Homo sapiens: one gene and its partners. The protein of the gene in region 3 purifies or fractionates together with the protein of the main gene of each other region. This does not show direct contact. Each region holds a gene or a part of one and is shown on either strand. Other genes may lie near its edges. The genes, in order: PYGM, TMED5, TAF6L, PCDHGA5, TNFRSF13B, MYH7 and PCDHAC2.

Region 1 (4,038 bases), 2.0 Mb from region 3:
TTCCCAGGGGACGTAGACCGGCTGCGGCGCATGTCGCTGGTGGAGGAGGGCGCAGTGAAGCGCATCAACATGGCACACCTGTGCATCGCGGGGTCGCACGCCGTCAACGGCGTGGCGCGCATCCACTCCGAGATCCTCAAGAAGACCATGTGAGCCCCGCTTTCCAGATCCCGCCCCTCTCTAGGCCCCACCCACTCCACGCCTCTGTCACACAGAAGCCCCGCCCTTCACCGACCACTCTCTGGTCTCTGGGCCCTGGCGCCTTTCACAGGTGGCGTCATTCTTACAAGCACAGCAGCCCCTTCCAGTGCCGCCCTGTCCTGAGATGACCTCCTCTTACACACAGCACCCCCAACCTTCCCCAGGTCTGCATTCCCTGCCCCAGGCCCCTTTCAGCAAGACACCAGGGTAGGGGCCCCAGGGCAGAGGCCTTCATTGTACAGGGGTGAGTGGTGACCCTCGTCCAACCTCATCCTGCAGCTTCAAAGACTTCTATGAGCTGGAGCCTCATAAGTTCCAGAATAAGACCAACGGCATCACCCCTCGGCGCTGGCTGGTTCTGTGTAACCCCGGGCTGGCAGAGGTCATTGCTGAGGTGAGAGGCCACCGTAGGGCCAGTAGAGTCAACATGGGTCCCTGCAGGGATCAGCTGGGTATGGTCGTGTAGGTGGTTCACTGCATCAGGGCTCCCAGCTGAAGGCTGAAATCCCTCCTGCACTGTGTTCCCCAAGCCTCGCATCCACCTGGAGGAGGGACACCATCTTAATTGCATGAGGGTGCTCTGTGTGCTAATGGAGGCCCTGGCTGTGGAGGTGAACACAGCAGAGGGAGTCATCCATGGGTCACATCTGAAGTGAGCCTGGAAGGGGGCAGATATCTGGTAGGGAAGGCGCAAGGTCATGCTGGCGTTAGGAAAAGGCCAGGAAGCCAGGAAGGCCTGCTGGGGTCAGGTGGGGTCAGCCATCAGAGCTCAAGGACGGGAGGGGAGGAAGGTGCATGGATGCCCCGTGCCCCATCTGGGCGGCTGGAGGAGGAGGGGCTGGGAGGGCCCCCAGAGCAGCCTGCTGGGTGAAGGGGGCTTGGCTGACCTGGAAATGGCCCCTTCTGTGTTGGGAGGAGGGAGGACATGGGGATGGGCTTGGCTGAGAGCCGTCTTCCCATAGCGCATCGGGGAGGACTTCATCTCTGACCTGGACCAGCTGCGCAAACTGCTCTCCTTTGTGGATGATGAAGCTTTCATTCGGGATGTGGCCAAAGTGAAGCAGGTGGGGAGAGATGCAATGTGGGACAGCTGTGCTGTGTGGAGAGCGCTGGAGGGGCCAGATGTCTGGGTCAGGCGTGGCAAATAGAGCTCATCTCTCCTGCCAGCCCAGGCCGTTGGTGGAAGTTGCCTGGAGTCTGTGGTGGGAAGGCATCATCTGACCTCACATGAACAGTGCTGACATTGATTAGCAATGTCTGCCCTGGTACAGGAGTGGACAGAAGTAGCCAGTGAGCCTCCTGGTAGCCATCCTCCTGGGGCTGACTGGAGTGTGGACTGTAGGATTTCCTGAGGCTGTGGCCTGTTGGTGAGCCCTTCCCCGTCTCTGCCTCCAGGAAAACAAGTTGAAGTTTGCTGCCTACCTAGAGAGGGAATACAAAGTCCACATCAACCCCAACTCACTCTTCGACATCCAGGTGAAGCGGATTCACGAATATAAACGACAGCTCCTCAACTGCCTCCATGTCATCACCCTGTACAACCGTGAGTGGCAGCCACTCTACCCTGTCTCTCAGTGCTCCCCCGTGTTCCTGCGGCATAGTACATATTGCCCAACCAACATCTCCTTTGGACTTGGGACTACTCTTGGGACATGGAATTATCCCCATTTCACAGATGGGCAAACTGAGGCTAAGAGAGCATAGCAAGTGATTGTTCGAGTCAGGCCTACGGTGTCCCAGCCCAGCCTCTGTCAGGAGCTACTACCCAGAGGGAAAGGTAGGCCCACTGGATCCCTCTCGTTTCTCCACAGGCATCAAGAGGGAGCCCAATAAGTTTTTTGTGCCTCGGACTGTGATGATTGGAGGGAAGGTGAGAAGCCAGGCTCCAGCCCTGGGCTCCCGTCCTTTGATATATCCAGGTTGAGGTCAGCCCAGCTGAGTTGCAGGATAGGGGGTGGGGGGCCAGGCAGTAGAGCTGACCCCAGACTTTGTCCCCTCAGGCTGCACCTGGGTACCACATGGCCAAGATGATCATCAGACTCGTCACAGCCATCGGGGATGTGGTCAACCATGACCCGGCAGTGGGTGACCGCCTCCGTGTCATCTTCCTGGAGAACTACCGAGTCTCACTGGCCGAGAAAGGTGGGTGCTGCCAACAGGGACCCTAGGGAGGCTCTGACTAGTTCAGTCTCAGGAAGAGGTATCAGTCGTCTCTTCCTGGGATACTTGTACTTGAAAGAAGAATCTGGAGAGGGCAATGCTTAAACCATGAGGAGGCCAGGCGCAGTGGCCCATGCCTGTAATCCCAGCACTTTGGGAGGCCAAGGTGGGTGGATCACCTGAGGTCAGGAGTTCGAGACCAGCCTGGCCAACATGGTGAAACCCCGTCTCTACTAAAAATACAAAAATTAGCTGGGCGTGATGGCAGGTGCCTATAATCCCAGCTACTTGGGAGGCTGAAGCAGGAGAATCACTTGAACCTGGGAGGCGGAGGTTGCAGTGAGCCGAGATCACGCCATTGCACTTCAGCCTGGGCAACAAAAGCAAAACTCCGTCTCAAAAAACAAGAGGAAACAAAACAAAGCAAAAACCCCATGAGGATGCCCTCTAATGGTGGAATTTCAGGCAGTACAGGGTGAAATTACCTTCAAATCTGCAACAGAGGTGGGGAAATCCAGGTTGGACCTAGATGGTCAAGAATCAACAAGAGGTAGAGGGCAGTGGGGGTGCGGTGTGAGAGGGAGGCTTGGCTGGTGAAGACTGGGAGTTTGGGGTGGGGCGACTCTGAGTCCAGCTATGCCTGGGGCCAGCCTAATCTGAGAGTCCCCAGCTGGTGTGAGGGTCTTCCCTGAGTTGACTTGTCCCCCTGCTGCCACCCCACAGTGATCCCAGCTGCAGACCTCTCTGAGCAGATCTCCACTGCGGGCACTGAAGCCTCAGGCACCGGCAACATGAAGTTCATGCTCAACGGGGCTCTGACCATTGGCACCATGGACGGGGCCAATGTGGAGATGGCAGAAGAGGCGGGAGAGGAAAACTTCTTCATCTTTGGCATGCGGGTGGAGGATGTGGATAAGCTTGACCAAAGAGGGTATGGGGGTCAGGGTTCACGGGCAAAAGACACCCAGGTGTGGCTGCTGGAGAGTGGTGCTGGGAGCAAGCGGCACGTCTGGAAAGACTGGTCCAGGCCCAGCAAGGTCTTGGTCATGGCCAGCAGGATTCTGGGAAACTTTAGAGGGCGCTTACAGCAAATAAGGTTAATGAAATTGGAAAAGAAAGAAGTAATATAGAACTGAAGGAAAAGGAAGAGAATATTATATCAACCCTAAGAGATAATATTGTTTGGGAAATGGAAGTAAAAAAATCCTTGCTCTACGCCGGGTGCGGTGGCTCACACCTGTAATCCCAGCACTTTGGGAGGCCAAGGCGGGCGGATCACAAGGTCAAGAGATCCAGACCATCCTGGCTAACACGGTGAAACCCCATCTCTACTAAAAATACAAAAAATTAGCCGGGCGTGTTGGCAGGCGCCTGTAGTCCCAGCTGATCGGGAGGCTGAGGCAGGAGAATGGTGTGAATCCAGGAGGCGGAGCTTGCAGTGAGCCGAGATCGCGCCACTGCGCTCCAGCCTGGGTAACAGAGTGAGACTCTGCCTCAAAAAAAAAAAAAAAAATCCTTGCTCCCTGAAAGCCATGGGCAAAAGGGAAATATGGGCACAGTAGTTACAAGGGGCCTATGGTCAGAAACAGTTCTTCAGAGAAGACATTATCCTGGCATTACATTAAAAAATTTTATTTTATTTTATTTTAATGTATTTTTTTTTTTGAGACGGAGTCT
Region 2 (4,038 bases), on a different chromosome or scaffold from region 3:
TATGAAAAGAGGGAAGTGAGGTGTCAGAAGAAGAATATATGGTCTTTTGCTGAACTCTGAACTCAAAGAGTTATAACAAGTATTTTATTTTTATATAGTTCCCTATGATCAGATCTTTTACTTTCAGGCCTTCTAATTACCTAAAACGAATGAGGTCTGAATAAAAAAAAAAAATTTACGTACACACAAAGATATACTGTCCTGTTTTAAGAAAGAAAACTATGGACAAAAATGGCATATAGCCAGCAGCTCAAGAAACTTTAAGACATATACCTGGAACAGTAGCTTTAAGTTAAAATAGAAAGCTTGTGCTGGCCAGAAGGCAGGTTTAAAATGCCACGATAGATTGAATGGAATACCAGGGGAATACTAATTTACTAACCAAAGCACAGAAAAAATTTAGCCTGGATCAAAAGAAAACGCTTAAACAAAAATAGAAAGGTTAATGGAAGATGTTTTTGTTTATCAGATGGCACACTATCATGAACTGTTTTAAATCATATGGAATTATCTAATATTGATATGTAGTATCAAATGTGCTAACTTTCCATGCCCTGCAGATAACCCACTGGTATTATTCAGCAATGAAACTCAACTAAAAGAGATTACTTACGTGTGAACTCCATCTGATTTTCTTTGTTCAAAAACTAAGGTTTTGCCTTCTGGAGAGGCAAGATGGAAATCAATATCTAATCCTGCTCCATCTAAAACCTGTAGAAAAGCATACATGAGAAAAACATATATTACAAATTCTGGAAATAAAAAATTATATACAGTAGATCATATGATGTAAAGATTATCTAAGCTAGAGAGGTAAGAAAGTCATCAGTGATGTCTGAGCTAGAAAAGAACCAAAAGATCATCTAGTTCAATTCCATTCATTTTTGGAACTTGTCCCTTCCTTACCCATTTCTCTCACCATCACCTAAATTTAGGCCTTATGGATATTACTGAAATAAATCTTCCTAAAATAGTGGTTTCATTCAGAATCCCTGTAGAATGGACGGAAACACAAAGAGCAGTTCAAATGCTGGGCGTTTTAGTTAAAACTTAGGCAATTGGCAGGGCGCGGTGGCTCACGCCTGTAATCCCAGCACTTTGGGAGGCCGAGGCAGGTGGATCATGAGGTCAGGAGTTCGAGACCAGCCTGACCAACATGGTGTAACCCTGTCTCTACTAAAAATAGAAAAATCCCAGCTACTCAGGAGGCTGAGGCGGGAGAATCGCTTGAACCCAGGAGGTGGACGTTGCAGTGAGCCGAGATTGTGCCACTGCACTCCAGCCTGGGCGACAGTGAGACTCGGTACCCCGCCCCCCCTGCCTCCCCTGCCCCCCCAAAAAAAGACTTAGGCAATTTCAGACATTGTATATAACTTTTTTGTTTCCTCTTCAATAAAAGAATAATAATTAACTGTTTCTTAGCCTGGAATTCAAGACCACCATGGTGTGGACTCCAACTGACTTCAACACATTCTTCTACTACTTCCCAGTATGAATTGTGTATTCGAAGCAGGCCGGTTCATTTACTAGCCAATGAATACAATCTATCCATTTGTAATTCCAAAATGTCCTTCTATGAAGATGATGATGATAATCATGGCAACTAACAATTATAGTTGATGCCATAAATTGTCTTAAATGCTTTATGTGGATTAATTTATTCCTTATAACAACTCTAAAAGGTAGGTCCTATTATTCTCATTTTAGTAAAAAAACAACAAAAACTGAGGCACAGAGAAATCATTTTTCCAAAGTGACACAGCATTAATTCATCTAGGCCACATTAAAAAAAATAAGTAAAAAATAAACCAAAGTGATACAGCAAATAAGTGACATGGTCAAAATTTGAACTCAGCAATCTGCCTCTAGAATAATTTTTAATAAGTATGCTGTGTTGCCTCTATTTCTGTTCCATTCTCCTGAATAGGTACTCATCCAATTGTATTCATTCTTTAAGAGCCAGTTTAACCCATTTATGCCTTGTGTTCCATTAGTGGAACACTAAGCATGTAGGAGTTATTTATATCCTACTGCTCAAGGTCATTGCCAAGGTCTCATTTTGCAATTCAAAAAATTGCAACCTCCTGCATAAATGGGTCAAGTCCTTTGAAATCTCCTCTGAATCCTCCTGTCCAGTTCTCTCACACTCTCTCTTGTATTACTACAGATTGCACACCTATCCTCTTTGGCACTTATGAGACGTTCTCTGGAATCTAAGCATCTTTTTGTAGGATTCACTTAGCATAAACTTGTAGGTACCTTTATGGACACCTATGTGGCATATCCAACATAGATGATAAGATGGATGAAAATTTTGTTCACTATTTTTATAACTCCAAGGGTACTGGTCCTAACAATGTTATTATCCATATTTTGATTTTTTGTCACAGATGCAAATATTTAATAAATGCATCTTTTTATCATCCTATACAAATTAAAGTGTCTCAGTGTTTTCCCTGTAGATCTGTCTGCAAACTTCTCTTCCTGTCTTCCTCTTTCCCTGCGTTTTCTCTTCTGTATTTATAGTGTTTGCTAAAATTTTAAAAAGAATCTATTTGGAACACTATATAGTACAGCCTTTTAACTGAAAAAAAAAAAAACCTAACTCAATGGCTACTCTTTTTCTTAACACTCCATTTTATTTTTCATGGTAGTTTTAATGTGATGATATAAAAAATTACCTACTCCTGTGCTTTTATTGTTCAACAGAACTGGTTTCAAATGGCTGGCTAAATGTACATAATTTTCTTCTTTAAATCCCAATGAAATGAAGAAGACATGTAACAATTAAAATCTATAGGCTGGGTGCGGTGGCTCATGCCTGTAATCCCAGCACTTTGGGAGGCCGAGGCGGGTGGTTCACTTGAGGTCAGGAGTTTGAGACCAGCCTGGCCAACATGGCAAAACCCCATCTCTACTAAAAATAAAAAAATGAGCCAGCCATGGTGGCACACACCTGTAATCCCAGCTACTTGGGAAGCCGAGGCAGGAGAACTGCTTGAACCCAGGAGGCGGAGGTTGCAGTGAGCAGAGATCATGCCACCGTACTTCAGCCTGGGCAAAAGAATGAGTGAGACTCCACGTCAAACAAAAACAAAAAACCCACAAAGAAGAAAAATTCCTGTTTCAAAAGATGAAAATCTTCAGACAGAAAGGATCTAATAAATGTGAAGCAGGATAAATGAAAAAAGACCATAAAATATGGAGTTTTCCAAAGGATTTAAAAAGTACAATCTTCTATCAAAGAGAAGTAGCAGAAGTAGTAGAGAACTGCAAAATACAAGAATTGGGATTAGCATCAGAATTCTTACATATAACATTAGATGGAAAAAAATAATGGAGCCATGTAGTCAATGTTCCCAAGTAAAAAGATATTTACTGACATGAAAGCAAAAATAAAGCCATTTGCCAGGTGTGGTAGCATGCACTGGTATTCCCAGCTACTTGGGAGACTGAGGTGGGAGGACCACTTGAGGCTAGGCGTTAAAGCCTGTAGTGTTCTATGAAAGTGCCTGTGAGTAGTCACTGCACTCCAGCCTGGGCAATACAGTGAAAACCCATCTCTAAAATAAAATTTTAAAATAAATAAATAAAGTTATTTTCAGATATCCAAGGACTCAAAACATTCTCAAAGAATTACTCAAGGATACCCTCCAAAAACAAAAAATATATATATTAAATCAGAAAACAAGCAATGTAACAAAGCTAAGAAAAGATTTCAGTAAAACAAAGTTAAAAAGCAGTTATTGGTAGTGGCTGTCAGGCTTAATGAAATTGTGAAAAATGATTTTTAAGACTATGGAAGGTTAATTAAAAAATCATAAAATATACTTTTTTTTTTTTTTTTGAGACACAGTCTCGCTTTGTTGCCCAGGCTGGAGTGTAGTGGCGCGATCTCAGCTCACTGTAACCTCTGGCTCTCAGGTTCAAATGATTCTCCCGCCTCAGTGTCCTGAGTAGCTGAGATTATAGGCATGCGCCACCATGCCCGGCTATTTTTGTATTTTGTAGAGATGGGGTTTCACCATGTTGGCCAAG
Region 3 (4,038 bases):
CCTGAATACAACCTGAATGTCCAACTTTTTTTTTTTTTTTTGAGACCGAGTCTCGCTCTGTCGCCCAGTGGCACGATCTTGGCTCACTGCAAGCTCCACCTCCCAGGTTTTACACCATTCTCCTGCCTCAGCCTCCCGAGTAGCTGGGACTACAGGCGCCTGCCACCACACCCGGCTAATTTTTTCTATTTTTTAGTAGAGACGGGGTTTCACCGTGTTAGCCAGGATGGTCGCGATCTCCTGACCTCGTGATCTGCCCACCTCAGCCTCCCAAAGTGCTGGGATTACAGGCGTGAGCCACCGCGCCCGGCCATCCAACATTTTTAACTGAGAAAGGCAATCTATAAAACCAGATGCTTAATATAATACCACTTAGGTTTTTATGAGAGTAATCATAGTTGATACAGAGAAAAAAAAGTAGGTGGAGGAATAGACTTTTCAGTTTCTTTTTCTTTTTTTTTTTTCTTTGAGATGGAGTCTCGCCCTGTCGCCCAGGCTGGAGTGCAGTGGCTCAATCTCAGCTCACTGCAACCTCTGCCTCCTGGGTTCAAGCAATTCTTCTGCCTCAGCCTCCCAAGTAGCTGGGATTACAGGCGCCCACCACCACGCCCAGCTAATTTTTGTATTTTTAGTAGAGACAGGGTTTTGCCATGTTGACCAGGCTAGTCTCGAACTCCCGGCCTCAAGCAATCCACCCGCCTCGGCCTCCCAAAGTGCTGAGATTACAGGCGTTAGCCACCGTGCCCGGCCCTTTTTTTTTTTTTTTTGAGATGGAGTCTCACTCTATTGCCCAGGCTGGAGTGCGGTGGCGCGATCTCGGCTCATTGCAACCTCTGCCTCTTGGGTTCAAGCGATTCTCCTGCATCAGCCTCGCAAGTAGCTAGGATTACAGACGCATGCCACCAAGCCCGGCTAATTTTCTGGTATTTTTAGTAGATATCCAACGGGAAATCACCATGTTGGCCAGGCTGGTCTCGAACTCCCGGCCTCACATGATCCACCCACCTCGGCCTCCCAAACTGCTGGGATTACAGGCGTGAACCACCGCACCCAGCCACTTTCTTTTTCTATGTTTTTATATTATATGTACTTCTACAGTAAACATGTACTAGTATTACTTTTTCGTTTTTCTTTGAGACGGAGTTTCGTTCTATCAGCCAGGCTGGAGTGCAGCAGCGTGATCTTTTTTTTTGAGATGAAGTTTTGTTCTTGTTGCCCAGGCTGGAGTGCAATGGCACAATCTCAGCTCACAGCAACCTCTGCCTCCCAGGTTCAAGCGATTCTCCTGCGTCAGCCTCCTGAGTAGCTGGGATTACAGGCGTCCACCACCACACGTGACTAATTTTTGTATTTTTAGTAGAGACGGGGTTTCACCATGTTAGCCAGGCTGGTCTTGAACTCCTGACCTCAGGTGATCCACCTGAGTGGTGTGATCTTGACTCACAGCAACCTCTGCCTCCTGGGTTCAAGCAATTCTCCTGCCTCAGCCTCCCGAGTAGCTGGGATTACAGGCACCCACCACAACAGCCAGTTAATTTTGTATTTTTAGTGAAGATGGGGTTTCACCATGTTGGACAGTCTGGTCTCGAACTCCTGACTTCAAGTGATCCGCCCACCTCTGCCTCCCAAAGTGCTGGGAGGCCAAGGAAGGATTGCTTGAGGGCAGGAGTTTCACCAGCCTGGGCAATACAGTGAGACCCTGTCTCTAAAAAAAAAAAAAAAAAAAATATATATATATATATATATATATAGGCTCACGCCTGTAATCCCACCACTTTGGGAGGCAGAGGCGGGTGGATCACCTGAGGTCAGGAGTTTGAGACCAGCCTGGCCAACACGGTGAAACCTCATCTCTACTAAAAATGCAAAAATTAGCCAGGCATGGTGGTATGCCCCTGTAATCCCAGCTACTTGGGAAGCTGAGGTGGGAGAATTGCTTGAACCCAAGAGGTAGAGGCTGCAGTGAGCCAACATCACACCACTGCACTCCGGCCTAGGTGACAGAGCAAGACCCCATCTTAAAAAAAATGTTTTTTTAATTAAAATAATAAATAAAAATTTAAATGTTCATAGAATTAGGCCGGGCACAGTGGCTCACACCTGTCATCCCAACACTTTGGGAGGCCAAGGCGGGTGGATCACCTGAGGTCGGGAGTTCGAGACCAGTCTGACCAACATGCTGAAACCCCCGTCTCTATTAAAAATATAAGGCTGGGCACGGTGGCTCACACTTGTAATCCCAGCACTTTAGGAGGCTGAGGCAGGTGGATCACAAGGTCAGGAGATCAAGACCATCCTGGCTAACACGGTGAAACCCCGTCTCTACTAAAAAATACAAAAAATTAGCCGGGTATGTTGGCGGGCACCTGTAGTCCCAGCTACTCGGGAGGCTAAGGCAGGAGAATGGCATGAACCCAGGAGACGGAGCTTGCAGTGAGCCGAGATCGCGCCACTGCACTCCAGCCTGGGTGACAATGCAAGACTCCGTTTCAAAAACAAAACAAAACAAAACAAAATTAGCCGGGCATGCTGGCACACGCCTGTAATCCCAGCTATTCAGGAGGCTGAGGCAGGAGAATCACTTGAACCTGGGAGGCAGAGGGTGCGGTGAGCTGAGATCATGCCATTGCACTCCAGCCTGGGCAACAAGAGCGAAACTCTGTCTCAAAAAAAAAAAAAAAAAACAGGTCTAGAATTTACAATTTCAACTTTGTGCCCCAACTTGGGCCCACTCGCTCACCTTCATCAGTTGCGGATCATCCCCTAGCACAGCACGAGTCACCTGGTGATAGTACTTGAGAAGGTCATCTGTCAGTGAAGACACAGCACTGGGCACTGCCAGAGGACAGGCAGGAAGCAGGGACAGGTGGAGAGCTGGCCCTCTCCTGGCCTCTCCAGCCTCCTCCCCCTCAACCACCATCCCCACACACATCCACAAGAAGCCTTTCTGACAGGACAACCAGGGCAAGAGACTGCTCTTAGAGCCTGCTCAGCCCTGACCATCTAGGCTCTGCACACCTCTGTGCTCTGTCCTGTCTTCCACCCACCCTCTGCCAGACGGACTCCTGAGAGCTTCAGGCTCTGTGAAGCTCTGCTCAGCATACCCTGGGGGTGAAACACCGCCCCAGCATGCTGCCCAGACTTCTGTCTTAGCATCCAACATGCTGCATTATGACTAGTTACAGGTCTGGGCCCCCATCTCCAACTCTGAGCCCTCCATGCAGAGCCCAGCGCCCACTCAGACCATGGCACAAGGCAGGCATGGGTAAACACATGTTAGACGCAGACTCGGGGGCACATAGGCACCACCCTCAGAACCTAAGGGAGAAAATTCATCCAAAGAGCCTGTTTCCTACATCACCCCTTACCCGATCCTTGAGGTGCCAGGTTCCCTTTGCCATCCAGGTAGGAGACATGAACTAGAAGCAGTGCAGAGAGATGTGTCAGCCTGGCGTTTTGCCCCTTAGAGTACCGCCTACCCCTCCAAGTTCTGCCTCTTCCACCAGCCAGCCCATCACCACTTCTCTTCACGGCCCAACTCCCATCCCCAACCCATGCAGGACCCCGGCAGCCACCTCTGACAGCTGTCTCAGCACAGCCTTTGGGGATGTTGGTAGCCAGGGCCAGCTCCACCAGGTTCACCTCTCGATCCTCAGGAAAGTAGAGTTCACCCTCCCTGGCGGGGCGCATGGGCAGTGCCTCCTGTGATCCGTAACCACACACAGCCTGAGGAAAAAGGGAATTGGAGAGCAGCCTGAATCCAGGGAGGGAGCAGGCGTCAGGATCCAGGATGAGGCTCCACTGACCAGAGCAGAGAGCCCACGTTTGAAGGAAGTCCAGAAGTCCCAAGAAAAGTGGTGGAAGCCTGGGACTCAGAGCCACCACTGGGGACTTGCCTGGAGCATCCGGGGCTCCCTGGGTCAAGGGAAAGAACATGGTCGCTCCTCCCATAACTGGAAGGGTCCTGAGCCCCACACCAAGCACTGGTCCTCCTTATTCACACTCACTCAACTTTGAAAACTCACTAATGTCTTCTAA
Region 4 (4,038 bases), on a different chromosome or scaffold from region 3:
GTCGGTGGGTTGTCGTTAATATCCTGGATCAGCACAGTTACATGAAAAAAGTTTAAAGGCTTTTCAGCAACCATTTCAAATTCCAGAACACACGTCGACTTCTTGCCACAAATCTCCTCTCGGTCTATACGGTCGCTCACAAGTAAGTTCCCATTTTCGGGGCTCACGGTAAAGAATTTCTTCTCTGCAATAACCCGCAGGTTCCTAGTAGGTAAATCCCCCACGCCAAACCCCAGGTCCTTGGCGAGGTTCCCTACCAGCGAGCCCCTGTCCAGCTCCTCGGGAATAGCGTAGCGGATCGGTTCGGAGAGAGCCTGGTCTAACAAAGAGAGCAGGAAGAGAAATAGCATTCGCCTCTGCCCTGCTGGGCCCCTCCATCCGGAGCTATTTCCCATCCCGCTCTCTGCGCCTTTGCCTTTCTAAATCCGAGGAGAGGAGATCTTTAAATAATCCCAAGAGTTCTCCGAGCAGGACCAACTATTTGCTTTGTCTTTGTGCTTGGGTTCTCTAATGGGTGTCTCCGCTGCAGGAAGCCTGATAGAGAGTGCACTTTTCTTCCGAGCTGGCTGCAGCGGGAGGAGCCAATATTTTGCACAGCACTAGCCAAGAGCGGCACCCGGCGCCTCTGCTGCAGAACTGCAGTAATGGTGACTAAATCAGCTCCAAATAAGGAGCTAGTTAGGAGAAAAATCGGCAGTGTACTGATAGTGATACTTTCTTCCCATTTTAAAAGGACTTTTAAAAAACATTAAATATACTTACTATATCTTTAGTCTGTTATTTCTTTTAATTTGAGCTTTATCCATCCAAATCAAGTACCTTTTACTTGTCAAAGGGCAGAGATAATCTTGCTCAATCCCGTCACGTTTTTAGTTTCCATTTTCATAAAATGGTCATAATAATATCTTCTCTGCTTACTCTAGTAGAAATGAGGGCCAAATAAAATAATACATAGAAAATCATACAAATGGAAGCTATTTTTGGTGATGGCAGAAGACGTAGTATAAAGAGGCTTGAAATATCAGCTTCACGTGTATTCTTATTGCATTCTATTTCCTTTACTTCTAACTTCTAAAAGTTATAATGTCATAGCTTTTAGTTTTATTCTATGTTTCACTTTCTTCTCTTTTATCTTTATTATCTCCCCCCAAAAGAAGTTAAAGGTAATGAGGAAATGATTGACCTTATAAAATAGAAGTATAGTAAAAAGCAAGAGGGTCTCTTTTCCTTTGTTTCCAAGTGTCTACTTTTAATTAAATAAGTATGATTGAAAACTTTTTTTTTCTATAGAGGTGGGGTTTCACTATGTTGCCCAGGCTGGGCTAGAACACCTGGCTTTAAGCAATCCTCCCACCTCAGCGTCCCAAATTGCTGGGATTATAGTCATGAACCACCCTGGCCCAAATGAAAAACTTTTACAAAGGATGTTTTTTCATACTACATCACAATTGTCCTGAAATGTACTGTTTCTTCTCAAGTAGCCTAACAATGATGCGTTATTAGGATTGGGGAGTGAATTGTAAGTCCTTATAATTATATTATTTAATTATATAAGTAATCTTCCTGTCCACTTTTCCTTGGTCCCCAGTTTACCATCTGATAATCCTAACTTTTTGTTATTTACACTTTTCCCTGGTCAATAACATGCCATTTTCCATGTTTCTGACAGGTGTCTTACAGTTTTAATTCCATTTTCAAACCAGAAAATCTTCCTAAAGAAATTATCTTTAGCCTACATAATGTATTGTTACTCTAAAACTAGGCAAGTGTGCAGCAATAAGCAATGAGTTCCACACCGAATTCACCTTATAGTGGAAAAGCATTATAGCATCTTAAACTACTCACAGTAACCAGAATTCTAGACAGACACTCATTGTCACCTTTATACAAACATCAAAAATATAACTGACTCAAGACTTTGCTCCAAAACATTCCAAAGCAAGTGCCTTCCAACACAATGCCAAGTGTTCATTGTATGAACACTTCAATTAGTATGAAAAATTATTCTTCAGAACACATATAAAACTAAAGATTCAGATATTTAAAAGTATATGGTATATACAGTACATACATTCAAAATGTATGGATCAAGCATTTTATAGTCTGTTAGTAGTTTATAGAGGGTTTAAAGATATTTTTCCATTGCACAAAACATTTAACTCAGAAGAAATGTACCCAAATCTATAACCTTTACTTTTTTCCCAAACACCTTACCCTAAGAAGCATATAACATTTTCTTTTAAAAAAAATGGAAAAGCAAGTTTTCACATAGGAGTGAATAATGTCGACACCTACTGTATAGATTCTCTTGTTACTCTTTGGATGCATTCACTATTCGGTGAGTTTGTACATTTTACATTTTGGTCAGAATGTCCATGTGTGTATGTATGTGTGTTTGTGTGTGTGTATGTGTGTATATATATGTGTGTATATATATGTGTGTGTATATGTATATAGATATAGATATACTTGAATGCTCTTTAACAGTGTTTAAAAAATAAAAATCAAGTGGTCTTAGGTTCTTTAATGTGTCAATTAACCTTTCATGTGGTTGAGTAATGTAGCTTACTATCCCATTTGTAATATTTTATTACCTTTTCCCCTTATTTAGTCATTATTTGAAGCTGATGCTCAAGGTTTTAAAAGTACAAAATTTGAAGGATTAAGAATATTTTAATAAGAAACATCTGAAAATCATCTTCAGCAAATCAGATGCAGAAGGGAAATATAGTAGTTCTTTCATTACATAACACATCCTCCTGGAATTTGAGGCACATAGGCCAGTATTTCATTAAGACAAATCTATTAATTTAAGATGAGCACATACGTTAGATATGAAATTTAAAATTTTGAACCATCTTTAAGTTGAGTTCTTTTTTTTTCAAATACAACCTTAAACTCAAGTAATAAAGAAGAATTGCACCTACACTTAAAGAAACGCTAACATTGCAGTAGGTATTGATTCTAATAAGTAAAGGGTTTATCTATAACAGAAGATGCCAGGTGTGTGACATATTTACATTTATTGAGTGCAGCAGTATGTAACTCTCTGGAGGCTTTACATCACAGAACGAAGCCCAACCTTAAGGTTCCTTTACACTGATTTCTTCTCTCAACAAGCCCACATATCCAATAACTACATGGCTTAACACAAACTTTCCAGACTTTAGAATGCTACATGTTATCATTAATATAAATTTTATCTACTTTTCTGATATTTATTTATTTATTTATTTATTTATTTATTTATTTTGAGACGGAGTCTCGTTCTGTCTCCCAGGCTGGAGTGCAGTGGCGCGATCTCGGCTTACTGCAAGCTCCTCCTCCCGGGTTCACCCCATTCTCCTGCCTCAGCCTTCCGAGTAGCTGGGACTACAGGCGCCTGCCACCACGCCCGGCTAATTTTTTGTATTTTTAGTAGAACAGGGTTTCACCGTGTTAGCCAGGATGGTCTCGATCTCCTGACCTCGTGATCCGCCCACCTCAGCCTCCCAAAGTGCTGGGATTACAGGCGTCAGCCACCGCACCCGGCCTCTTTTCTGATATTTATGACCCAGAAGTTCTCTGTACCTTTCCACTGATTTATGTAAATACTGTAAATTATTTCCTTAAACAAATTTCAGGTAGACTAAAATATCAGTCCTATACATTATCCTTTCCAAAACACATTCACTAATGGTGTCTAGGCAGACACTCAAAAGAGAACAATATATCTAACAATTTGAATAAATAAAACATCTTTTCTATTAATAGAACTGCAGTTCCAATATAACAAAATATTTGGGTAAAATGATTATATTTAACCACTTTCCTTTAAGGTATTTGTTTCACTTAAGTCTACAGATATCAGCTAGACTTCCCAAAACAGAATTTGAAAACAAATGGAGAAAGCATGAATTATATAAAAAAAATTAATCTCCAATACAGCAAATAATGTTCCACTATTTACATAACTAGCTGATTCTGAATATGACAGAAACATGAAAAAGGAAACAAATGAAAATGTTCTGGTCATCCTTACCGAAAGAGAAAACTAAC
Region 5 (4,752 bases), on a different chromosome or scaffold from region 3:
ACCCAAAACTTGAATCCAAAAGTTCATAGAAGCTTTCTTAATAATCACAGTGACAAAAAAAGTAGAAACAACCCAAATGTCCATCCACCGATGACTGGAAAAGCCACATGACATATCCATAAAGTGGAATGTTACTTGGCCACAAAACTGAAGCAAGTACTGATACCTGCTACAACATGGACGGCCCTTGAAAACATTATGCCAAGTGGAAGCAGCTAGTCACAATACATCACATATGATTCCATTTATGGAAAATGTCCAAAACAGGCAAATCTATAGAGACAGAGAGTAGATTAGCCTGGGGCTAGGGAGGAATGAAGACTGACAAAGTTTCTTTTTGGGGTCATCAAAATCTTCCAAAATTAGCTTATGGTGATGGTTGCACAACTCTGTAAATATACTAAAAACACAGACTTGTATGCTTTACACAGGTGAATTTCATGGCATGTAAGTTATATGTAAATAAAGCTGCTTATTCTAGGGGAGGTGGGAACTGGGCAGATGGAGGACAAGGAGGAAGAAAAGACTTTCTATTATATATCTTTCAATACTTTCTGGGTTTCAAACCATCTGACTATACTATCTATTCAAAGGCAAATCTAAAATCAAAGGATCAAACAAAATTAAAGGCAGACCCGATTCTCCCCACTTTTGGGTTGGGGAGCAAAGAGGGAGAAAGCCACCACCCGCCGCATATCACCGTGAAGGGTTGGTTGAGTGGAAGGTGGGCAGGACGTTCTATGTGACAAGGGCAGCCTTGGAGATGTTCCAAGACCCATTCATTGCCTGGACCAAAGCCACCAAAAGCCACTGGACCTGACAGAGAGACAGTGCCTGACTGACCAGACAGCAGATGCCAAGCTGACCAGAGGGCCTGTCCCCGCCCCCTCCTCTACCACCATGTGGACCTACATAAAATCCCAGAACCATCATCAAGTGCCAAAGGAGGGCAGGAAAACCCCATGACTGACACCAGCCAGGCAGAATAGAAGCTTGAGAGAGAAGCTTCGTTGATGGAAAGGGAAGAAAGGGAACACCTCTCTGACACTAGCTGTGTGGGCTGGGCTCAGACTCTGGGCCGCCACAAATTTGGATGCAGGATGGAGACTCTCTCCTGCACCCCGAGACCAGAGAGCAGCCAAGGAGGGTGATTCTCAGAGCCCTCTGCTTGTGCCTCCTCACGGGCTTGGCCGGTTAACAGGTGCTGCACCAAGAAAGAGCTCTGTGGTCGGATTAGTTTGAAAAACACTGGGTTAAAGAAAGTCAAGGCAGTTTTTTAACCGCAGGGCTTCTCAGAGCCTTTCCTCATGACTCCCCAAGAGGGGGTCTGGTAGTTTCATCAAAGCACTTTTGTGTGTTTGAGGGATGTCTGGTAGGAAAGACAGTCTTCTTCATTTTACACTGAGGGGAAGCGGCTCAGCCAAGGTCCCAGAGTGGGCCAGTGGACAACCGGCCAGGGCTGATTCGGCAGCACCAGACAGCTTCTGCCACTGCCAGGTCACAGTTCTAGCTGGGTCCTGACTCGTGGCCCCAGAGCACTGGGCAATTTCATCCTGTGTTAAGGCAGCCTCTGGTCACTGCCTTGTCCAAGTCTCTCAGAAACTTTACATATTTGAGCCCCTGGCTGTGTAGATTCTGGGGACTTGGTGGCTGGACACAAAAAAGGACTGAAGAACAAATTTGCTCCCTGCCTGAGGTGTGGGACAGAGCAGCAGGCAGAGGCTGTGAATCTAGGCTGTGCCCCGGGTCCATCTGGCCATGGGTTCTGTCTGCACTAAAGGACCTGGGGCCCTTTCATAAAACCTTAGAAACCCACCCTGATGAAAATGCTATACGGGCCGGGTGCCGTGGCTCATGCCTGTAATCCCAATACTTTGGGAGGCTGAGGCAGGTGGATCACCTGAGGTCAGGAGTTTGAGATCAGCCTGGCCAACGTGGCGAAAGCCTATCTCTACTAAAAATACAAAAAATTAGCCGGGCGTGGTGGTGGGCACCTATAATCTCAGCCACTCGGGAGGCTGAGGCAGGAGAATGGCTTGAACCCGGGAGGCGGAGGTTGCAGAAAGCCGAGATCATGCCATTGCACTCCAACCTGGGTGACAGAGCAAGACTCTGTCTCAAAAAACAAAAACAAAAACAAAACAACAAAACAAAAAAAAAGAAAGCTATAGGATAAATATAAATATAAATATATAACAGAAAAAATGGGTGGAAACTGTTATAGATTAAAACATAGCCAAAAGTCTAATGTGGGACAGGCTGATTTGAACAAGTCAACTGAGAAAGACATTGGTGAGACAGTTGGTACAGTTTGAACCCTGGCGGGCTATGTGATGATGTTCAGGAATTGTTGTTTCAGCAGGGGTGAAGGTATGATGCTTAGTTTTTTGTTTTGTTTTTAGGGTTTGTGTTCTTAAGGAATAAATCCTGTGGTCTCCACAACTCAAACAATCTGGTATTTGAGATTAGCATTAAAATGGTCCAGCGGGCATGTAAGGGGGAAAATGGGGGCTGTGCAGGGGCCATGGTGACAAAGGGAATTCCTGCCGGTGTGGCCAACCCTGCAACCTCAGTGGCTTCTGTCACGGAAGGCAAGCCCCACATCCCAGAGGCATCCAGACTCGGGGCTCTCCATGTGCAGGAGCTTGGGGAGGCTGGGACTGCCCCAGTGTGTGGATCTGCTGTGGGCTTTGCACCTGCTGGACCTTGCAACCCCCACGGCACTCAGGCCCAACCCTCCTCACACCTCCCACCTGCCCTCCTGCCCTCCTGCCCGGCTACTCACAGCGCTCCTCCTGGTCCACACGGCTCCGGCCACCTCGCCTGCTCCGGCCCAGGCCACTCATTACTCAGGATGCTTATTACTAGTCTTAGATTTGATTAGTGCTTGGGCTGCACTTCCTGGGTTTTCCCCTCAACCTGTTGGATGTAAATCAGCCACACCCACTCCCGCCCCCATGCCTGTGCATTGGGTCTCAGGAGCCCAGGTGGGTGGCTGCGGCCCAGGCTCCTGGCGTCCCATGGGGTACACACAGAGCAGTGGAAGGCCTGCCGGGCCTTGCGATGAGGTATTGACTATGGGATGGCCCAGGCTCTTCTAGATCTGGCCTTGGCCATCCCTTGGTCCTCATCTCCTGCCCGCCGGCACACACCCCAAGCCAGGCCAGCTCTCCACCCTCCCAGCATCACTCAGGCCTTTCCCTCTTCCTGGGTATACTTATTCTATTCATTGCCTGGTCGGCTCCTCCTGCTCTTCCTTCAAGGCTCCATTGAGGTGTCACCTCCTCCAGGAAGCCATCCCTGACTGTCCCAGCCTGTCAGGTGGTACTCATTCTCTGTATCTCCTTGACCCTCTCCAACACCTAGCAGAGCACTGGAGAGGCTGAACCCCAGGACCGGACAGCCTGCGTTTGAATCTTGACTCTGCTGCATACTAGCAGAAGGCCTTGGTGGCAATTTATGGAACTCTTCTGTGCCTCCATGTTCTCTGTGTAAAACAAGGATGAGGTCGGGCATGGTGGCTCACGCCTGTAATCCTAGCACTTTGGGAGGCCGAGGCAGGTGGATTGTCTGAGCTCAGGAGTTCGAGACCATCCTGGGCAACACGGTGAAACCCCATCTCTACTAAAAAAAAATACAAAAAATTAGCCGGGTGTGGTGGCGCGTGCCTGTAGTCCCATCTATTTGGGAGGCTGTGGCAGGAGAATGAACCTGGGAGTCAGAGGTTGTAGTGAGCCGAGATCGTGCCATTGCACTCCAGCCTGGGCAACAGAGATGCCATCTCAAAAAAAAAAAAAAAAAAAAGGATGAGAACATTGCCCGCCTCACAGGCGGTTATGAGCATGAAATGAGGGAGGGAGCACAGTTACATTCTTAGAGCAGGTTCTTGGCACACAGTAAGTCCTCAATAAAGGCCGTGGAGGAGGAACATTACAGCCCGTATTGCACTGCATGGCGACTGCACTCCTGTGTCTTCCCCATCGTCTGAAACCTCCCAGGGGATGGGAGGCCCAGCAACAGCCAAAGGCGGAGTGAGAGGAACGTAAAAGCCAAAGAAAGCCCATGGGCCCTTAGGAAGAAACTGAAGGACGAGGAGGACATGGAGAGGTGGAGAGGAAGGAGGGAGGCTGCAGGAAGCAGCTGGAGCAGGGTGATGGTGCACAGAGCAGGAGAGGAGATGCAGACGGTCAGCAAACACAGGAAAATGTCCAGTCTCCCAAAAATCAGAAAAACAACTGAACAATGAAAAACTAACTTTCAGCCATCAGGTTGCAAAGTTTTAAAGTTGGTAACATCAAGGGCAGGGGGGTGATCTACAGAAGCATGAACTCAGGGCCCACTGGAGGGAGGGAGCTGGCAGCAGCGTTCTGGAGAGTAACCAGCCAGGGTCAGTTAAATGCACAACACACACCTAACCCACCCCCCAGAAATTCTCCTCCTCCGTGAGCCTCCTCATGACAGCGAGAAACGGGAAACAATGTAAATGTCCATGCAGCAGAGGATGCCTGAATAAGCAGGGTGCACAGGCCAGAGCCAGGAATCTATTGCACAGTTAAAAGAATGAGAAATCTCGAAGCTTTCAGGACAGACGCTGAGTAAATAAAAGTAGCTTATAGCATGAGCCTTACAGCATGATGCCTTTTAGTAAAACAAAACCAAAAGCAAACAACATGCACACACACACACACACAGTACAGCGCTGTGTTGTCTGTGATCACGCACACATGACTGTGAAGCATAAGAAGTCTGCAA
Region 6 (4,819 bases), on a different chromosome or scaffold from region 3:
TAGAGAAAGATCCCAGGAGAGAAAGAAGAGAAAGGAAAACCTCTGCATGCACTCAATCTGAGTAATGCCAGTCCCCAGAGTGTTGGAATTGAACCAAGGATGTTGGGACGAGGTTAGAGTGTAACCCTGCCTAGACACAAACAGAAGACACTCTTGGCTCCTGGGGTGGACATGGATGGAGCAAGAACAGAGATCCCAACGTAGGGCCAGGTGCAGCACTCACGTAGATCATCCAGGAGCCGTAGCGATCCTTGAGGTTGTAGAGCACCGCGGGCTCATGCAGGAAGGTCAGCATGGCCATGTCCTCGATTTTGTCGAACTTGGGTGGGTTCTGCTGCATCACCTGGTCCTCCTTCACGGTCACTGTCTGCAAGAGCCCCCACCCAAGCCCTCCTGTCAGCCTGGGCTTTCCCTCCTTCCTCAAGAGGGTTAGGAGTTGGTGAGTGACAGGGCAATAGTGCTCAAGAGAGAAGGAACCAGGATCTCACAGGGAAGACAGAAGGGATATTGGGAAGGAGAGGGCTCTTTGGAGGGTCTGGATTCTTCCCCAAAGGGAAGGAGAATGGGACCATCCTCAGGTCTGCATGGGCATGGGGCATGGGTGTACCCCTCTCTGTCCACCCAGGTGTACAGGTGGCCAGGGTGGACTCTCACATCAGCCTGACACCCACCTTGCCATACTCGGTCTCGGCAGTGACTTTGCCACCCTCTCGAGACACGATCTTGGCCTTGACAAACTCCTGTTTGTCATCAGGCACGAAGACATCCTTCTTGAGGTCAAAAGGCCTGGTCTGCGCTTCTAGCCGCTCCTTCTCTGACTTGCGCAGGTAGGGGGCGGCAGCCCCAAAGACTGCCATCTCCGAATCTCCCATGGCTGTGCCTGGAGTGAGCAGAAGCTGGCTGCCCTCCCATCTGCCCATTCTTCCCTTCCCTCCCTGGGCTCTCCCCTTCAGTGGGAGCCCCAAAACCTAGCACCATGCTCAAGAGTCAAGAGGAGTTACCAGTGAGTCCCTTCCTCTTTGAGGTTACCCCTTAACCAGAGGAGCAGCCTAGCAAACCTGCCAGGGTAAAAGGAACAACTAACTATTGTTCAAGCTGGGGCTCTCCTAGGGGAAGGAAGAGCATTCTGAGCTCCCTGTAGGAGCAGAAATCTAACTATTTCCATCTCTGACCCTCATCTATCCCTGGACCCCCTGGTCACAGGTAAGTAGCTCTTGATAGCCAAGATATTCTCTCCAGCACATGGCAGAAACTAGAGTTCCATAGGCTGGCTTTGGGGCTCTAATGCCCAGTCTTACTAGATTTTCAACACTCTAGCTTCAGCTTTTCTTACCTGGGCTACTCAAGTGTGTCTACAGATGAGGAAAGGGGCCAAGGCCTGCAGGGGACCTGGAGAGAGGGAAGAGGCTGTGTCAGGGCAGGCTGTGCCCAACCTGACCAGTCCCACCTTCCTGCTTCTCCCTGGCTCTGTTCTTCAGCATCCACCCTCTTCCAAAACAAGGTGGAAAGGGTGGTCAGCTTCTCTGGTCCCATCCTTCTTGTTTTTCAAACCCTATTCCCTTTTTCCTCAAGAACTAGTTCTAACAGCTTCCTGGTGTCAACTCAACCTGAACCCTAATCCTCTTCACTCCTGCGAGATGGTCCCACCCCTGCCTGTACCCATCTAGTGGTACCTTTCTTTGAGCCATCTGAGAGACAACTAATGGTCACATTTGTTCGGCACTTTCCAGTCTAAAAGCACTTCAATGCACTTTCTCCTACTCAGTCTTCACCCCATTTGACAGATGAGGAAATCGAGGTTAAATGGCTTGCTTGGCCAAGAGCCCATGACAACAAGTGGGAGAGCCAAGACTTGAATGCAAGTCTGATGACTCTAAAGAGACTTCTTTTCCATCCTGTCCCCATTTTGTTGTCAGACTTTGTGGACATTCTCAGAGAGAAGACACTGTGGGCTTCCTCTCACAGACACACCCATCACATAGCCAAACACCCTCCACAAGCCCTCTGATGAACACTCATGCCTGCTGCTTGGGCATGCCTCTCACATGAAGACAGGCTTCCTTCCCATACCTCAATCCGCACCCCAACCCCAGGGTGCCATATATGCCTCAACAGCAAATGTGCACATTTCAGGATGTGTGCCACGTAAGTAGATCACATCACTGCGTGTTCTTCAGTACACAAAGACCTGGAACATCCTACACCCCCGTGCCTGTGAGTTCCTTCTGCAGAGGGTACAGATACTATAACAGTCATGACTCGTGGAGGCATAGACAAGAACCTCTGCATGCATGGACAGGGGTAGCTACACATTCCAGGCCTCACAGAATCACATGAAGGCATACACACTTCCTAGAATCCTTCTCCACCATTCTTTCTCCCTCCCTGCAAAGGAACCTCCTCGTTCACAGACGTGATCATACACCCACATCTCCCACTTGATATTTCTGTATCAGTCAGTGAGGTACATACCCTTTCTCACATTCAGACTATGCAGGCTTGTCCACACACACACACACACACACACACACACACACACCCTGTAATGCATATTGGTCCCATATGCTCAGATGCAGATATCTTCCCCTAGGAACTCCTGTGGCACATACGCCCATGTTTAGACCTGCACATGTGTGCCCAGTGACTGGACCTGGTACTCTGCATGAAGTCCTGCATGAAGCTTGCTATTCCAAGAGGAATCCCTTCCTAAGCCTGGAGCCCCCTTATCCCAGAGTAAAGCCTCCAGCTCCCGCTCCTACCTGAGAGCAGCAGGGAAAGACACAGAGCAGGACAGAGCTGTGGAGCCAGACCTGGTCTCAGGGGCTGTATATATGGGGCAGCAGGGCACCCCCACCCCCAACGGCACCCAGTCCCTAGCCGGATTTAGAAAGGGCTGTTGTCACTAGAAGCATTTCCCCCAGGCTCCCCCCCTTCCCAAACAGTGCTCCCCTCCCCGCCTCTCCAGCTAGGAAACAATTGGAAGTGGTCGTCATTGTTATGGCATGGACTGTGCAGGGTCTGAGTTCCAGGGGGCGGGGTGGCTCAAAGTGCAGCAAAAATATCTCCCAGGCCAGGCCTCACATTCCACAGCTGGCAGGAGAGGGAACTGACCACGACCACCAAGACCACAGGCAGCCAATGTCCTGGCTCTCCCGCAGGGCACTTCTGGCCCTGGACACTGCTCCCCCTCCAGTCCCCTGCTGCGAGGCCCCTGATGGCCTGGCCGCATTTCCACAGTGTCCTCCCTGCTCTCCTGGCCCAGGTCCTGTATCCAACTGGAAGCTGGGAAGGGGCTGAGTGTCAGCAGCAGAGAAGGGTAGGACAGAGTTGGGGGCATGGCCCCAGGGTGAGGCAGCTAGACTGGGGCAGCTGGAAGGACATTTCCTAGCCAGGTGGCAAGAACAATAACCATGGAGCTTAGAGATGGGGACTCTGGCTCAGGCACTGATTTCCTTGGACCAGCAGGCAATGTGTTGAGGTCACCAAGCCTCCGAGCCAGACAGGCCTTTAGCAATCCATCCAAGCACTTCATTTAATGGAGAGGGACAGTGCATTCTTTAAGGTTATACAGCTAATCGGGGCAGCAGGATTCAAGGTGGGAAACCTCAGCAGATGGGAGTGGAGCCCGGCCTGTGGAGGGTAGCCTGGAAAGGTGGGCTGGGATTCCAAAGATGTGGGGACCCCCTATGCGCAGAGAGCAGGACCCAGCTGCATTGGTCCTAGTTTGGAGCGGTTTGCCTGACTCACGTTCCTGGCTCTGCCCCACAGGTACTAAAGGCCTGAGCCCAGAGACAGACCCTCTCAGAGCTATAGATAATACAACTACTTGGAGCTGGAAGGAGACCCCTAAGACAGCTGTTGTCTGGCCCACCCAGCCTCAGCTTTATCCAGAGCTGGAGGCGACTAGTGTTCTGGCAAGTGAGGCAGAGTAACAGGACAGGAAAAATCTTCCCCTCTGCAGGCCTGAGGAACAGCCACAAAGGAGGGGAGGAAAGGGAGCTGGGGCCCAGCCTACGAGCACAGAACACAACCGATGCCATGCTCTTCTAGCAACGGGGCATGCAAGCTTGACTGGCTCCGTGTCTAGGCAACCACTGCACGATTTGGTGTGAAATCTCCCCCTTCTTCCCAAGCACAGCTCTTCCGCGCATGCGGATTAGTCCATCTGATTAGCTGTCAGCTTGGAAGGAGTGAGGCAGGCCTGGGGGATGGGTGCAGCAGGTACATTTTGAAGGTGGGGTGGGCATAGCAGGGAAGGGAAAATCCAGGAGGAGGCCTCTGTGGGGGTTGCTTGGTAACCAAGGCACTAAGGTACAGTCTGAGGACATTGAGCAGCTATAAGGGGGGTGCAGGCAAGTGGGGGTAGACCACGAACTGCAAGGGCTGTGTCTGACAACACCGCAGCTCTGCAGTGCTAAGGTATACAGTTGCTGAGGTTATCCCAGTAGTCTGTGCTACTAACATGCCCGGCAGAACAGACTCTGGCAGTCCCCCCCAGGCCCTGCCAGGTGCTGAGGAATCAGCCCCATTGACAGAGACAGACCCTCTCAAAGCTATAGATAATACAGCTGCTTGGAGCTGGAAGGAAACCCCTAAGACAGCTGTTGTCTGAGGTTCCCTGTAGGAACCTCAAGGATTGGCGATGAGGGGCAAAAACTCCTTTCGTCCCCACCTTCCAGCTTTCCAAGCTCCAAACTGCCACCCCTCCCTGATTTCCCAGGGCAATTAAGATGCACAAAGGGTGCTTGGGACGTAGTTGAGCCATTTCAAAGCCAGTGTCTTCACCACAGGCCAGCGTCCTTCCTTGGCTGGGGACTTG
Region 7 (4,038 bases), on a different chromosome or scaffold from region 3:
ATAGGGTCTTACTCTGTCATTTAGGCTGGTGTGCAGTGGCGCGATCTTGGCTCCCTGCAACCTCTGCCTCCCGGATTCAAGCAATTCTTCTTCCCCAGCCTCCCTAGTAGCTGGGATTACAGGCATCTGCCACCGTACCTGGCTAATTTTTGAATTTTTAGTAGAGATGGGGTTTCACCATGTTGGCCAGGCTGGTCTTGAACACCTGACCTCAGGCAATCCACCCTCCTCGGCCTCCCAAAGTGCTGGGATTACAGGCTTGAGCCACTGTGCCTTGCCAAAAGTCTGTGTTTTAAATAAATTTACATGAAATGACATATATTTTTCTTCTTTCTCTTTTTTACTTCTGAGTTTCCAGGATATTGATTTAAAACAATACAAAACTAAAAGTAGTAAAATGTACATGAGTTTCATCCAGAACTTGATTAAACTTGGAAAAATTCAAGTTGAAAAGTTGACTACTGATATATCTGACACAGTAAGACATATATTACTATCACAATTTCAATCACAGTTGAAATAACTGTGATTATTTAGTTCTTTAATACTTAGATGGTACCTCCCAGGACTATGCTTACTTTCTATTGGTGAAGAACTCTAATATGTCCTATTGCTTCAAAGGTTAGTCTTTTGGTAGAATAATGGTCACAAAACTCCATATGTGGAAAAAATCAATTAGGTAGTCCATATGGGTGATGTAGTATTACTGAAGAATAAGAATACACTTCAGTTCCTATTAAAATTATAAAAAAGATTTAATTTATCTTGTAATGGTATTATCTGTGATTTATGACATAGAATATTTGAGCTACAGAAGGATGAATCACCTCTTCTAAGATTTAAAGTAAAATAAGTTTAAAATACCCTATTTTATTAATAAACTCACACAACTACTCAATGAAATAATATGCTATCTTCGTACCATGGAAATCCATGTGGAAGACATCAACAAATTGCCCTCTGGGACATGAGACTGCATATAATATCTCCTTTTCCTTCCTAATAGGACTGTATTAAGAATATATCCACTGCAGATTTTGCATAGTGCTATTTTATGAACATTGATATAAACTGATAGGCAGAATTCCAAGATGGCCCCAAGATCCCTATATCCTGGTGTGCACACCCTGAATAGTCTCCAAGACTGTGATTGTGATGGATCTTATTCCCATGATTACATTATGCTATGTAGCACAGTTGGCTTTAAGAAAGGGAGATCATCTGGATGGGACTGACATAATCACATGAGCTCTTTAAATCTGGGTCTAGAGGTCAGAGACAGAAATCAGAGAGATCTGAAGCATAAGAGGGATTCCATGTGAGGGAAGATTCTCCAGTGCCAGCCATGAAGATGGAGCAGACCATGGGACAAGAGTCCTGAGTCCTCAGTTCTCTAGGAACTGAGAGTGACCCCAGGCCAATAGTAAGTAGGAAAACAGAGATCTCAGTCCCCAAACAACTGGATTCTGCCAACAATCTGAATGAGCTCGATAGTAGATTCTTCCTAAGAGCCTGCAAAGGACAACACAGCCCAGCTGTGTTCATTTCAGCCTTGAGAATACCTGAGCGGACAACTCAGCCACATGGTACAGGACTGTGAGATAACAAATAGGTGGTGTTTTAAACAACTTACTTGTGGTAATTTGTTACAAATCATCAGAAAAGGGATACATAGACTGTTCCGCATTAAGGCAAAAGGGAATATAACATTTAAAATAATCATTATGTTGCATATTGGTCTTCTAGTATATCAAAATGAGGGCTGGGCGCAGTGGCTCATACCTGTAATCCCAGCACTTTGGGAGGCCAAGGTGGAGACAGGAGTTCGAGAGCAGCTTGAACAACATGGTGAAACCCAAAAATACAAAATTAGCCAGGCATGGTGGCGCATGCCTGTAATCTCAGCTACTCGGGAGGTTGAGGCAGGAGAATCGCTTGAACCCTGGAGGCAGAGGTTGCAGTGAGCCAAGATCATGCCATTGCACTCCAGCCTGGGCAACAAGAGCAAAACTCCGTCTCAAAAAAACTAAAATAAAATAAAACACAAAGGTAATACATTTGAGAATTCTGGGTGGAATACTTTCCTCTGAATGTAGTCATTTAAAATGCTAATTTACAAACCAGGAAAGTAAAATAAACATAACTTTAGAACATACCTAATGGGTTCCAGTACAACAGAAAGTGCTAGGTCTGTTTAGTTCTGGATGCATAGCCTGCTAGCACAGCAGCTACTCTCTCACTCACAGTTGTACCTCCTTGGAGCCCAGAGTTCTGACCCTGGAAGGCCAGAAAGGAACTGATGGTGCTTATATGCCAAGGAACTAAGATTTCTCTTTACCTTTGCAATGTTGGATATTCCTTTGCATTTGTCAAGTTAAAATTCTTGAAAGAAAAACCCTTGTATAGTTTTCAGGTTAGCAGATTTAAAACACTGCAAAAGAATACTTTTAACCTTTGATTTTTGAAGTCATGGTTATAGATTATACTGCTCCAAATATTATCATATTAATAAGCTAAATTTATAGTTGTATTATCACATGCACAAAACATTGATCCAGGTGAAGTTCTGTAAAAGCCACATTTAAAGACACCTGTAAAATGCCATCATATTCAGCTAAACCTCTGGGTTTGGTGACAGGAATGTTTCCTCAAACATTTGCAAATTGACATTATTCTGACCTCTCATTGAGAGCAAAAATTGGTAGGCAACAAGCAAGTACCCAGAACTGACTTTGCTATTCTGTCAAGTAGACAGCATGCCAATAGGCAACCTATAATATGCCAGGCTGTGTCCCTGCAGAGTGTTCTGAGTTAGACCAGATGCCCATGTGATGGCTCACTCCTGGGTCAGAAGGAAACAGTAGGCCAATGACATTCAAGCTACAATAAATAGATTTCTTCTTCAGTCAGAATGTGTACAAGATACAGAAACAGAGAAGAGCTCAGCCATAATTCCATCTGGCTCAGCAGTCTGTAGAAAAATTGAGGAAAGAGGTAATTGAAATAAATTATTGTATCATCAGACCAAAGAAAATAAACTTTTTCTCAGAAGAAGAGTCCTGTGACCAATATGAAATTTGCAAACTAAAACAGCCCCAGTCATTATAAAGTGACCATCAGAGGATGAAAAACTGGAGTGGAAGCTCATAGATATGATTTCTTTGTCTATTCTGACCATTGTGCAATTTTTATAAATTCACTACTATGTCACTTTACAACGAGTGTAAACTCTGTTCCAGGATAGAGTCATCAGATAGAAAAATCAGTGCTGGGGGAAATAAAAGTAGGTGCCACTGAAAGAAGAATTAACTCTTTCAGGTCACTATACCTGGAATTAGGGTGAATATGCACACATAGTGGCAGAAATAACTGAAGGTTTGGTGACTACAAATTGCTTTAAAATAAGTGAAAGTGAATGCAAACTTAATTCATCTCTGCTACTCTTTCATAATTTCTACATGTTGTGCCAGCTGGGCCCACTGAGACACTGTTGGACAAATCTACTAGAGTACTCAAAGTGACTCATTAACAATCACAACACCACGACCACAAATGCACAGAATCTACCTTAAGATTTGGTTTCCTTTGCCGGGCATGGTGGCTCACATCTGTAATCCCAGCACTTTGGGAGGCCAAGGCGGGTGGATCACAAGGTCAAGAGATCGAGACCATCCTGGACAACATGATGAAACCCCATCTCTACTAAAAATACAAAAATTAGCCAGGCGTGGTGGCGCGTGCCTGTAATCTCAGCTACTCAGGAGGCTGAGGCAGAAGAATCACTTTAACTTGGGAGGCGGAGGTTGCAGTGAGCCGGGATTACGCCACTGCACTCCAGCCTGGCAACAGAGTGAGACTCCATCTCAAAAAAAAAAAAAAAAAAAAAATTTGGTTTCTTTTTATGGAGACTCTGAAGGGAGTGCCAACAACATTCAGTATCAAGTTCAGAAATTTCCAAAGAGAAATTCTGCCCTATTGCCAAATAGTTACTTCAGAATCCTCACTGCACAAGTGATTTATGAAATAAGCTCACTGGGG

The links.
Region 1: the proteins of TAF6L (region 3) and PYGM purify together in Homo sapiens (affinity purification with mass spectrometry; one large-scale study listed by BioGRID and IntAct). This does not show direct contact.
Region 2: the proteins of TAF6L (region 3) and TMED5 purify together in Homo sapiens (co-immunoprecipitation; one large-scale study listed by IntAct). This does not show direct contact.
Region 4: the proteins of TAF6L (region 3) and PCDHGA5 purify together in Homo sapiens (co-immunoprecipitation; one large-scale study listed by IntAct). This does not show direct contact.
Region 5: the proteins of TAF6L (region 3) and TNFRSF13B purify together in Homo sapiens (co-immunoprecipitation; one large-scale study listed by IntAct). This does not show direct contact.
Region 6: the proteins of TAF6L (region 3) and MYH7 purify together in Homo sapiens (affinity purification with mass spectrometry; one large-scale study listed by BioGRID and IntAct). This does not show direct contact.
Region 7: the proteins of TAF6L (region 3) and PCDHAC2 purify together in Homo sapiens (co-immunoprecipitation; one large-scale study listed by IntAct). This does not show direct contact.

Annotation. Positions count from the first base shown.
Region 1 is NC_000011.10:64,749,630-64,753,667, reverse strand, and holds part of PYGM (glycogen phosphorylase, muscle form), read left to right. Parts: coding exon 1-149; intron 150-480; coding exon 481-595; intron 596-1,163; coding exon 1,164-1,265; intron 1,266-1,596; coding exon 1,597-1,744; intron 1,745-2,012; coding exon 2,013-2,071; intron 2,072-2,201; coding exon 2,202-2,343; intron 2,344-3,084; coding exon 3,085-3,292; intron 3,293-4,038. UniProt on the Homo sapiens protein: Allosteric enzyme that catalyzes the rate-limiting step in glycogen catabolism, the phosphorolytic cleavage of glycogen to produce glucose-1-phosphate, and plays a central role in maintaining cellular and organismal glucose homeostasis.
Region 2 is NC_000001.11:93,159,516-93,163,553, forward strand, and holds part of TMED5 (transmembrane emp24 domain-containing protein 5 isoform 1 precursor), read right to left. Parts: intron 712-4,038; coding exon 614-711; intron 1-613. UniProt on the Homo sapiens protein: Potential role in vesicular protein trafficking, mainly in the early secretory pathway. Required for the maintenance of the Golgi apparatus; involved in protein exchange between Golgi stacks during assembly.
Region 3 is NC_000011.10:62,777,666-62,781,703, reverse strand, and holds part of TAF6L (TAF6-like RNA polymerase II p300/CBP-associated factor-associated factor 65 kDa subunit 6L), read right to left. Parts: intron 3,727-4,038; coding exon 3,576-3,726; intron 3,420-3,575; coding exon 3,369-3,419; intron 2,836-3,368; coding exon 2,741-2,835; intron 1-2,740. UniProt on the Homo sapiens protein: Functions as a component of the PCAF complex. The PCAF complex is capable of efficiently acetylating histones in a nucleosomal context. The PCAF complex could be considered as the human version of the yeast SAGA complex.
Region 4 is NC_000005.10:141,366,752-141,370,789, reverse strand, and holds part of PCDHGA5 (protocadherin gamma-A5 isoform 1 precursor), read right to left. Parts: coding exon of another isoform or gene 4,018-4,038; exon of another isoform or gene 3,007-4,017; intron 549-3,006; exon of another isoform or gene 396-548; coding exon of another isoform or gene 1-395. Other genes in the region: PCDHGB3 (protocadherin gamma-B3 isoform 1 precursor), read right to left, coding at 1-395. UniProt on the Homo sapiens protein: Potential calcium-dependent cell-adhesion protein. May be involved in the establishment and maintenance of specific neuronal connections in the brain.
Region 5 is NC_000017.11:16,969,230-16,973,981, forward strand, and holds the start of TNFRSF13B (tumor necrosis factor receptor superfamily member 13B), read right to left. Parts: upstream 2,890-4,752; 5' UTR 2,847-2,889; coding exon 2,786-2,846; intron 1-2,785. UniProt on the Homo sapiens protein: Receptor for TNFSF13/APRIL and TNFSF13B/TALL1/BAFF/BLYS that binds both ligands with similar high affinity. Mediates calcineurin-dependent activation of NF-AT, as well as activation of NF-kappa-B and AP-1.
Region 6 is NC_000014.9:23,432,861-23,437,679, forward strand, and holds the start of MYH7 (myosin-7), read right to left. Parts: upstream 2,801-4,819; 5' UTR 2,760-2,800; intron 1,390-2,759; 5' UTR 1,334-1,389; intron 881-1,333; 5' UTR 873-880; coding exon 672-872; intron 368-671; coding exon 224-367; intron 1-223. UniProt on the Homo sapiens protein: Myosins are actin-based motor molecules with ATPase activity essential for muscle contraction. Forms regular bipolar thick filaments that, together with actin thin filaments, constitute the fundamental contractile unit of skeletal and cardiac muscle.
Region 7 is NC_000005.10:140,972,510-140,976,547, reverse strand, and holds part of PCDHAC2 (protocadherin alpha-C2 isoform 1 precursor), read right to left. Parts: intron 1-4,038. UniProt on the Homo sapiens protein: Potential calcium-dependent cell-adhesion protein. May be involved in the establishment and maintenance of specific neuronal connections in the brain.